2 separate regions of the Homo sapiens genome follow, and region 1 is reported to be linked to region 2. Evidence: microRNA targets listed by miRTarBase, many of them from high-throughput screens and not tested one by one. Region 2 holds a microRNA gene; the other region holds the end of a gene's coding sequence.
The links. Region 2 holds the annotated microRNA hsa-miR-876-3p (UGGUGGUUUACAAAGUAAUUCA, at 3,579-3,600, opposite strand). A microRNA usually pairs through its seed, bases 2 to 8, with sites in the 3' UTR of a target mRNA and lowers its output. Matches are read on the target gene's strand: a 7mer-m8 pairs with bases 2 to 8, a 7mer-A1 pairs with bases 2 to 7 and ends in A, and an 8mer does both.

Region 1: miRTarBase lists EPHB4 as a target of hsa-miR-876-3p. Seed matches in the 3' UTR shown: 7mer-A1 at 4,447-4,453.

What each region holds. Positions count from the first base shown.
Region 1 is chr7:100,798,563-100,803,876 of GRCh38, forward strand. EPHB4 (EPH receptor B4) reads right to left here. Exons shown (of 17, transcript NM_004444.5): 17 at 4,003-5,028. The coding sequence ends at 4,899. Among named protein-coding and RNA genes, the nearest start is that of EPHB4, 26 kb to the right of the region's middle. RefSeq lists enhancers at 901-960, 2,904-3,607, 3,608-4,310 and a silencer at 965-1,259.
Region 2 is chr9:28,860,058-28,865,440 of GRCh38, forward strand. It overlaps MIR876 (microRNA 876), which reads right to left and starts at 3,649; the gene lies at 3,569-3,649. All of the region lies in intron 2 of LINGO2 (leucine rich repeat and Ig domain containing 2), which reads right to left.

The DNA.
Region 1 (5,314 bases), not on the chromosome of region 2:
CTTAGAGAAAGCCACATGCGGGTGGCACATTCAGTCCCGGCGAGGCTGACATCACTAGGGGAGACAGAAGGAGCAGGGAGGGCAGAAGGAACAGGGCGGGCAGGGGAATGGAGGGTGGGATGCAGCCCCAGACCCTCGGCTTCTGATTTAGGAGAAGACTTCACCTCAGGAATCCGAGTGCTTAGAGGACGTGGCCTCTGGCTCCCCACCAAGGTGATTCTGAGAAATTTTACATGTCAAGTACAGACTAAGGTTGGGGAATGTGGCTTTTTTTTCTTTTTCTTTTTTTTTAGAGACAAGGTCTCACTCTGTTGCCCAGGCTAGAGTGTAGTGGTGCAGTCATAGCTCACTGCAGCCTTGACCCCCGGGGCTCAAACGATCCTCCCATCTCAGCCTCCTGAGTAGCTGGGACTACAGGCATGCACCACTACGCCTGGCTAATTTTGATATTTTTTAGAAGAGATAGGGTCTCACTATGTTGCCTAAACTGGTCTTGAACTCCTGGGCTCAAAGAGCTCAGCCTGCCTCCACCTCCCAAAGTACAAGGAATACACGTGACCACCTTACCCAGCCAAACGTGGCCTGCCCGCCTTTCCTTCCTTCCTTCCTTCCCTCCTTCCTTCCTTCCTCCATCCTTTCCTCCCTCCTTCCCTTCCTTTTCTTCCTCTTACTCTCTCCTTCCTTCGTTTTTCCTTCCTTCCTTCCTTCCTTCCTTCCTTCCTTCCTTTCTCCCTCCCTCCCTCCCTCTCTCTCTCTCTCTCTCTGTTTTCTTTCTTTCTCTCTCCCCTCTGTCCCTCCCTTCCTTATTTAGAGACAGGTGCTTCCTCTGTTACCCAGGCTGGAGTGCAGTGGCGCAATCATAGTTCACCCCCCAAAGTCCCTCCCACACCTCCTCGAGGGAACAAAACATGGGTGATGTGTCACCAAGGGAAGAGGGGACAGAGGACTCAAGAGCCCGAGGGACCCCAGAAGAGGGCTGTAGAGGTGAGAAATTGAGGGCAAGTCTCCCTGGGCTGGGAAGGGCCCAAGCTGTGATTTGGGGTCCAGCACTGACACAAACACGACAACAGGGGGCGACTGAGGTGCAGAAGTGGAAAAAGCAGGTCGGGCGTGGTGTAATCCCAGCGCCTTGGGAGGCTGAGGGGGAGGACTGCTTGAGGCCAGGAGTTTGAGATCAACCTGGGCAACATTATGAGGCCCCCTGTCTCTACAAAGAATAAAACATCAGCTGGGCATGGTGGCGTGCGCCTGGAGGATTCCCAACTACTCAGGAGGCTGAGATGGGAGCTTGAATTCTTGGGCTCAAGCCTCAGCCTCTCAAGTAGCCAGGACTATAGGCGCATGTCACCACGTCCTGGCTAAAAAAAGTGGCTTTTTCCAAAAAAAGCAAATCAGCCTGTGACCCTCTGGAGAGGCCCCCACCCCCGGTATTCCTCCATTTTCCAAAAGGGGCTAGGGGTTACTGAGGGCGGGGTCTGGGGTCTGGGTTGCTGAAGAATTCTGACCTCTATCCTACTAGGAGTGACCCACTCACCCCAGCCTGAGGCCAAGGTGCAAACATCCCGCCCCCTCCCTCGGGACCTCTGCCTCCCATCAGGCAGGTCCTTGCTTGGAAGTGGGGGCTGGGACGTCTTGCTTGTGCTCTAAGAAGGAAGGCTTGCTGGGTGCGGTGGCTCACACCTGTAATCCCAGCACTTTGGGAGGCCGAGGCGGGCGGATCACGAGGTCAGGAGATCGAGACCATGCTGGCTAACACGGTGAAACCCCATCTCTACTAAAAATACAAAAAAAAATTAGCCGGGTGTGGCAGCTGGCGCCTGTAGTCCCAGCTACTCAGGAAGCTGAGGCAGGAGAATGGCGTGAACCCGGGAGACAGAGCTTGCAGTGAGCTGAGATCGTGCCACTGGAAGGAATGGAAGGCTGCCAATTGGGCTGGGGGAAGATCAGGATGTAGGACCCCAAAGGGGATTTGGGTTTGGGGATGTCAAAACGGAGGACAGGCTGGGTGTGGTGGCTCACGCCTGTAATCCCAGTGCTTTGGGAGGCTGAGGAGGGAGAATTGCTTGAGATCAGGAGTTGGAGACCAGCTTGAGCAACATAGCGAGTCCCTGTCTCTACAAAAATGTAAAGAATTATTGGGTGACTGAGGCGGGAGGATTGTTTGAACCCAGGAGTTCCAAGCTGCAGTGAGCTATGACTGCACCACTGCACTCCAGCCTGGGCAACAGAACGAGACCCTGTCTCTAAAGAAACAACCAACCAACCAACCAACCAGGGAGGATACTGAGTTCTAGAAATGTGTTATACTCTGCGCTTATCCTCTGGGATGACACGCCCTGAGGTCACCTTTATGGGAATGAAGCAAGACCCAAACCCGGGAAGGGAGGGTCCTGCCCAGCGAGACTCTCCCTTGCCCTAGCTGGAAGAGCATTCATGGTGGGGAGCTGGATGTGGCAGGAAGGCTCAGGGCAGCCTGGAGCTCTTGGGGCTGGACCTCAGGGGGCTTCTGCAGCCCCCTGCCCTGACCCCAGCTCCCCACACCGGGTCTTCACTCTTGGCCTCTCTGCTGCACCTCTGCAATGCCCATTAACCTTTCTTTCTCCAGCTACAGCTCTCTAGGACACCTTATCTAGCCCGGATGTCTGGTTGGCAGGGGAAGAGGGTGGGCCTGGGCAACATCCTCTGGATGGACCCCCCGAGTCCCTCCCACACCTCCTCAGGGGTACAAAACATGGGTGATGTGTCACCAAGGGAAAGGGGACAGAGAAGAGCCTGAGGGACTCCAGAAGAGGGCTGTAGAGGTGGGAAATTGAGACAAGCCTCCCTGGACCGGGAAGGGCCCCAGCTGTGATTTGGGGTCCAGCACTGACCCAAACACGTCAACAGGGGGCGACTCAAGTGCAGAAATGGAAAAAGGTTGGGCGCGGTGGCTCACGCCTGTAATCCTAGTACCTTGGGAGGCTGGGAGGGGAGGATAGCTTGAGGCCAGGAGTTTGAGATCAGCCTGGGCAACATTGTGAGACCCCCCCCAACCCGTCTCTACAAAAAATAAAAAAAATCAGCTGGGTGTGGTAGTGTGTGCCTGGAGGATTCCCAGCCACTCGGGAGGCTGAGATGGGAGGATCCCTTGCGCCCAGGAGTTCAAGGTTACAGTGAACTATGATCATTCCACTGCACTCCAGCCTGAGTGACAGAGTGAGGCCCTGTCTCAAAAAAAAAAAAAAAAAAAAAAAAAAAAAGAAAAAGAAAAAGAAAAAGCAATGGACCAGGTTAAGCCAGGCTGGTCCTTGTCAAGACCTGCCCCTGCAGGTGCCCGGGGGGAGGCCAGAAAGATCCCTGGAGAAAAGGACACAGAAAATGGCAAGAAAGAAAGCGGGGCATTTGGAGGGGTAAGTTGGGGGAAGACAGGAGGTTCCCCCTCCCCTTTCCAAGAGGCAGGGAGAACCTGCCCGGGCAGCATCTTGAATGGGAGAATTGTCCTCGGCGCGCGCTTATCGCTTGTGTACACACGTGGGGGGGTCCCTTCTTCCCTTCCCCCACAGCCAATGCAGACACTCTCCCCGCACTGCCTCTAAATCTACCCCAGCTGTCAACATCTGGCCCCCATCTGTGTCCATCCACGGAACCCCCTGCTCCAGCTCCTGCCCCAGCCTCCCTCTCCAGTGGCTGTCGGGCAGGGCTGGGAGCTCAAGGCCTTCCCTCCCTCTCCTGCAGCAGCCTCTGGCCAGGACTGAGGAACCAGGACAGGGGAGGGAGGGGACAGCCCCACCCCGGAGGTGCCCCAGGCTCTTGGCAGAGCCAGCTGGAGACGTTAGAAGCAGCTGCGAATGATTCATCTCGCTCGGCCCCCACCCCACCACCTCAAACATACCCTGGGGCTGATAACCAAGTTCCAGCCCCTACAGCCCTGCAGCCTCCAGACCTCTGACACCTCTCGGTCAGCCACAAAGCCCTCCCTACCCAGCCCCACTCTCCTTAGAAATCTAGTCCATCACCCCCATCACCCCTGGAGCTGGGACACGTCCCATTTTCTTTTATTTATACAAAAAGTTACTTTTTTAAATATAATTTAAGAACCCCTCCAAGCACCGGCGTCCGTTTCTGGGTTCCACCACCAACTACCGCCCTTTTCACTACCTCACCCCACACCCCTTCATAGGACACAGCTTGGGGGTCCCAGGCGGGGTCCGGGGATGTGGGATGACCAAGGCACTGTTCTGGAAACAGACATGATGATGGGCCCCTGTTTCAACTTGGGCAAAGGAGGCCATAGTGAAACAGGTTCCCTCCAACACAAAGTTATGACAAGGACGGTAGAAAAACAAAACGAAGAAACAAAAAGGGAACGGGGAGAAAAATTAAGACCAAAAACAAAACTCAAAAACCTTCAATATGAAGGCAGCAGCTGGGGGAGGGGCATTTACAAGGGAAAAAAATGATTGAGTTTGGTGGTGACAGCAGCAAGTTGGGACTACAAACCCCAATGATTTTGTCACTGGGCCCTGACACCCCTTCTTGCCCCCTGGGACAGCCCCCCCACTCTGGAGCTGGCAAGGGAGTCACACTCTCTTTGGTCTGCGGGAACGCACCCATCAAGGTGAGGGGGGCACCTGGGGAGGCTGGGAGATGTTGGGCACTTCCTTTTCCTCTGGTCACACCCAGTCCTGAGGGAAAGGCGCCCTCACCCTTGGTCTGGAGTTCCCCGAGGTGGCTGGGGGGTGATTTTCCCCTCCTATTATGGCAGAACCCCCAAATCCTGTCTCTCCAAATTGCCAACTCCTCACCCCACGGGCTCAAAGTGCAATCCAGCGGGGCACAGGGCTGGGGGCCTCTGTGAGTCCCCACTCTGCCCCGGAAAATGGGGAGGCGGTGTCCCTGGGGTGGGGAGTTCCTGCAGGTCAGTACTGCGGGGCCGGTCCTCCTGTCCCACCCGGGGTTCCCGGCTTGGCCTGGGACTTCATGTGCTGGACACTGGCCAAGATTTTCTTCTGGTGTCCCGCCAGAGTGACTCCGATTCGGAGCAGGTCCCTGCAGAAGGAAAGGAGAGCTTGGTGAGACCCTAGGTTCCCTGTGGCCGCTCTCCTCTCTTGGCTCCTGAGACGGTCCTAGCCTCAGGATTGTAAGCCAATCAGAAAAGCCAGCGGGGGAGGGAGAACAGATGTCAACAGTTCCCGGGCAGTTTTTTTAAGAGCTGGGCAGCCATCCTTCTGTGCAACCGCAGAAGGGGGTAGGGCTGGAGGCCAGAGGCAGGGCCTTTGGCTTGGGTGCCAGGGAAGGAAAGAAAAGAGAGAAAAGCCCGCAAAATGAGACTGGG
Region 2 (5,383 bases):
ATTAAATAAAACATAAATATTTTAAATTTCACATTCCCATAGAAATATGTGGAAAATAATTAAGAAAATCTTACAAAGAACACCAACTTATTGTTTGAAAATCAAAAATTTATTTCATTGGAAAAATACCATTTTTACTGTGAAGATTAATTTTATTTGTCAACGTGACTGCACCATAGTGCCCAGATATTTGGTCAGACATTATGCTAGATATTTTTGTGAAGGTGATTTTTGGAAGAGAATAACATCAAAATTGGTACCCTTTGAAATAAAACAGATTTCCCTCTATAATGTGGGTAGGCCTCACCTATAAGTTGAAATCCTTAATAGACAAAGACTGACCTTCCCCATGCTTGAAATAATTTTGCCAGAAGATTAGATTGCACTTGGACTTGAACTGCAAATCTGCCCTGAGCCTCCAGACAGCTGCCCCATCTCATCGGATTTTGGACTTGCCATGCTTCCACAATTATGTGAGCCAATTACTTATGATAAATCCCTCTCTCTATAGATAGAAGAAAGATAGATAGATGGATAGATAGATAGATAGTCTTTATTTCTCTCTCTATATATAAAGATGCATATATATAATCTGTCATGTATAGTCATATATATATTTCATATATATATATATATATGCATAATCCACTTCTAAAGAATGAAACATAACAGGACAAAATGCAGTCAAAATGAATACAATAGATATAGTCAATGATGATGCAAAAGCAATTTCCGAAGTCTGTATCACTGTCACTTAGTTGTACAAATGTGTCACTTAAGAAACTAAAGGTCAGAAGTTTTCAGAGTTCTGACAGTCTTGTGGTCATAGCATTGAAGTTAAATAAGACTTAAGCTCTAGCCTTATAAATAAAAAAAGGTAAAAAATAATATATATAATATATTATATATCATTAATATATAAATCTATAATATATTATATTTATTAATATATAATATAATATATTATATAATACATATTATTAATATATAAATGTATAATATGTATTATTAATATATAAATATATAATATAAATTATATAAATATATAAAATATATTTATATAATATAAATTATATAAATTTTTATATAATTTATATTATATAAATATATAAAATATATTTATATTAATATATTTTATATATTATATATTTTTTATATAATATTATATAAATATATAATATATATTTTTTATACAATATTATATAAAATATATAATATTTATATATTATATATTTTATATATTATATATTTTATATAATATACTATATATAATATATATTATTAATATATATACATATTTAATATATATATACACACAAAAATCTTGTTGGTTCTGTTCTCTAGAAAATTCTCACAGATAACATTCATTTAAACATATCTATTCTCATATAGTTCTCACAGAAATTAGGGAAGCTTGATATTACCTTGTCCATAACAGGAGACCTCAGGTTCACTTTGAACACATGTTCTACTCATAACTGCACTCAAGCATGAGTATCTAGTGAGATTGTGTTGCTACAAAAATAAAATAAAATAAAATAAAACAAAATAAAATAAATTAGCTGGGCATGGTGGCAGGCACTGTAGTCCCAGCTCCTCAGGAGACTGAAGTGGGATGATTGCTTGAACCCAGGAAATCAAGGCTGAAGTGAGCTATGATTGCACCACTGCACCCCAGCCAGGGCAACATATGTTTTTTGTCTCTTACCAAAAAACACAAAACCTACACTAAAAATTAATTCATTGTTTGTAAACCTGTATTTATCTTAAAAATAAAAAAAGCGGTAGTGAAATAAATATAAAGAAGTTGGGATTAAAATTAGGATACAAGGATATAGGTACATGATTATGAGATATGCTTATTAGTCCATTAGCACATCCCATTATATCTCCCGTAAACTAAAAATTATCTTAAGAAAAAATATTGTGACTTCCTTCTAAATTCATATATCAGCAGTTCTACATATTATCATTAAAAACATAAGCTTCGGCTCAAAGGAAATTTTACAGGTGCCCCCTTTCATAAAACAGAAAAATCAAAGAGCTCTAGGACAAATTAATTTCAGAAACCTGTCTTCTCAGACTCTTTTCCCACCTGTCCTCACACATCAGCAAAGTAGCACCCAACAAAAGCACAGGAAATCCCAGAGCTCTGTGGATTTTGCTTATGAACATACAGTCCTATGAAAAATAAGGTTACATATGTATCAGACAAGGAATGGTAATAATAAATACTGAAGAATTAAAGGCTAGGAAATAAGAATAACATGTTTGTATCATAGTTCAAATTAAATTAGAGTAGCAAGATATTTCTTAGGTAAAGCATTTCCAATCATATTTATACACATATATTTTAAGGTTAAAAGTATACATATTGATTCATTCTTTTGGTCATTTATATGTTGAAAAATAATATACTGATTTTCTTTTATCTAACAGAAGGGCTTAAAAATTAGTATGCTAATTTATTTAAAGTCACCCAACCTTATAGAGCATATGCATAATCCACTTCTAAGGAATGAAACATAACAGGACAAAATAAAGTCATAATGAATACAATAGATATATTCAATGATGATGCAAAAGTAATTTCAGAAGCCTGTACCACTGTCACTTAGGTGTCCAGATGTGTCACTTAAGAAATTAAAGGTCAGAAGTTTTCATAGTTCTGACAGTCTTATAGTCATACCATTGAACTTAAATAAGACCTACGCTCTAGCCTTGGAAATAAATAAAAAACGGTAAAACCAAAATGACTATTTGAAAGCTTAATCAGTTATTAAAATAGTTAATCATCAATTGTTTGATTTATGGTCAGGGATAATCCATTCTTGGTAATCCTGATGACAGAAATGACCACAAAGTTCCATTTATTTTAATAAGCAATTACTAGTCAACAATTAGGCTTTTGTGACCTTGTAAAGGTTACACAATCTTTTCTGTCATAGAATAGGACTATAGATACTGTTTCCAGAAGAGTAAATGAAAATGAATGCCCAGTGAATACCTAATTTTAATATATGCCATCAAAATGTACAATTTGGTATGTTAAGGTGATTTTTTTTGCCCACACCAATGTTTTTCTTGTTAAAATAAAATGTTGCTTTTTACAAAAGTACTGCATAACAATGATGTCTTCAAGCCCCTGATCATTTACCAAACTATTTAATTAATATATTAATTGGGCATAATAATCCAAATAAAATATGATATTTAAACTTCAAAATGGTATGCTTAGGATTTAAGGGGCTGATTCAATTAATGTTTCTGATGTATCATGTTTTTTTAACCAAGAAATATTACAAATTACTTTTCAAAAAAAGAACAGTAGAGACAGAGACAGCAACTATGTAAAACATGTATATTTAGGTAAAGTAACCATAATTTCTGGTGTGTTTGACACAGGTTTGATCACTGTTAACACTAAGCACCAAATAGAAGGATTCTAGAGTATATTTACCAGGGATCTCTTGACTTTGTGTGTCTTGTAATACAAAGTGGCTTGTTCTCAATGGCTCAGTAAAGGAATCTTAGGCTTCATGGTGTAGATCAACTGCAGAAGCACCTGTGAAGCACTATGAATTACTTTGTAAACCACCACCACATTAGCTTAGATATGGTGATTCACAAAGAAATCCACAGCACTTCACAGTTTGTGTAAAGCCTGGTACCTATGAACCAACAAAAACAGTACCCTTTGGCCACCAAAAGTTGAGGAAGTATTTCCATCTAGTTCACAATCAATTGAAGAATATGCTCAGTTTTGCACCACCCTCTTTTAGCTGAAACACACAAGAAACACTGAACATTTATTTTAAGTAAATAAAACTTAAAAATAAATGCATGCTTTCTATATTATATACCAGTAAATTTCATTTAAAAGAATTCCTAATACAATAACTAGCATGACATTATGCAGGATGAAAAAACAGGGTTCTGCTCATCAAAATAAAAGGGCATGGTTATTAATATAGATGTCAGGAGTAGGGAGTAGAATAAATAATAAAACTATATGTAATTCTCACATCCATATCACAGTATATAAGTGTTGCTGGGATAATTTGTTCTAAAGATATCCTCAGTTACTTAGCTTCCCACTTTATACTCATATAATCTCATATCCTATGACACAAGCTTACCAATGTTACAAATCTGCCCTTGTACCCCTGAACTTAAAATAAAAGTTCAAAGGCAATCATTAAATGAGTTTAACCTGAGTGTTTTTTCCTCTGATATTTGTCCAAGTAAGTATTTTTTCATATGACTGCTGAAGTCCAAGAATGTTTATAAAACTAAATTCTATATTATACATATTAGGTTCAACTCTGAAAGAAAACCACACCAATAAAAAATGAAAAACAAACAATAAAGTTACTCTCCTTTGCAAAATAACCAGAATCCCACCTTTTAACTTTTATCTAAAGAGCAAAAAGAAAGGTTTCATTTATAATTAATGAAAAGAATCTATAAATCTTCCCAGCCTAGTAAGCATAATATCAATCAAGTAATTCATGCTTTTGAAAATTTCAACATTTTTCAAAGTAACCATCAAATGTCAACATTAATTAAAAGTTTGCTTTATAGAAGCTCATGAACATAAGAGTCCTAGGCAGTTCACCACTGTCAGTGTAGGTCACTGCTCAGGAATACCCTACTCACCTCCACCAACCACACATATAACAACCAAGCCAAACTTGCTAAGTATCTGAATAATTAAAAATATTTAAATAAAAAATTTGTAGAAAATATGTATGTATGAAAAAAAAATATTTGTTTTGCGCTTATCATGTGCCAGGCATAGTCTTGGTTAGATGCTGGGGATATAAAAACTCCAGGTTTCAAGAAATACAAAGGAGAAAACAAGAATTTGAAAAAAGCAGTAATAGGTGTTATGAAAAGTTTCCATATAGGGCTAATGGAGACATGGAGAGGCCACTTAATTCAGTGCTAAGAGCGTTGATTACAGATGTCTTCTCTAAGGGAATACCATATATAAGAGAACTGAAAGAGTAGCAGGAATTAGCAATGAGAAGGGTGGGGTAAGTGTTCTAAGCAGAAGAGAACACATATACCACGGCCTATCCAAAGAAATAACGTGATTTTTATTTTATTTTTTGGTATACTATAGCTGAAAAGGAAAACTGCTGCTACAGTTAGAGTAGGTGAACACAAGTGAGCATCACCAGATCAGAGGCAGCAGGGACAGAAAAATTTGAAGTAAGAGAACTCCAGAATAATGAGGCAACCTGTCTGAAATATGGGCAGAGTAAAGGAGCAGTTATACAAAGGTCCTCCAGCTCTTCATCAAGTGTCACACTCAATCCCAAACTGGCCCAGGCAAAACCTCTTGAAGAATCAGGCCAGTTTCCCCAGTGAAATTCAG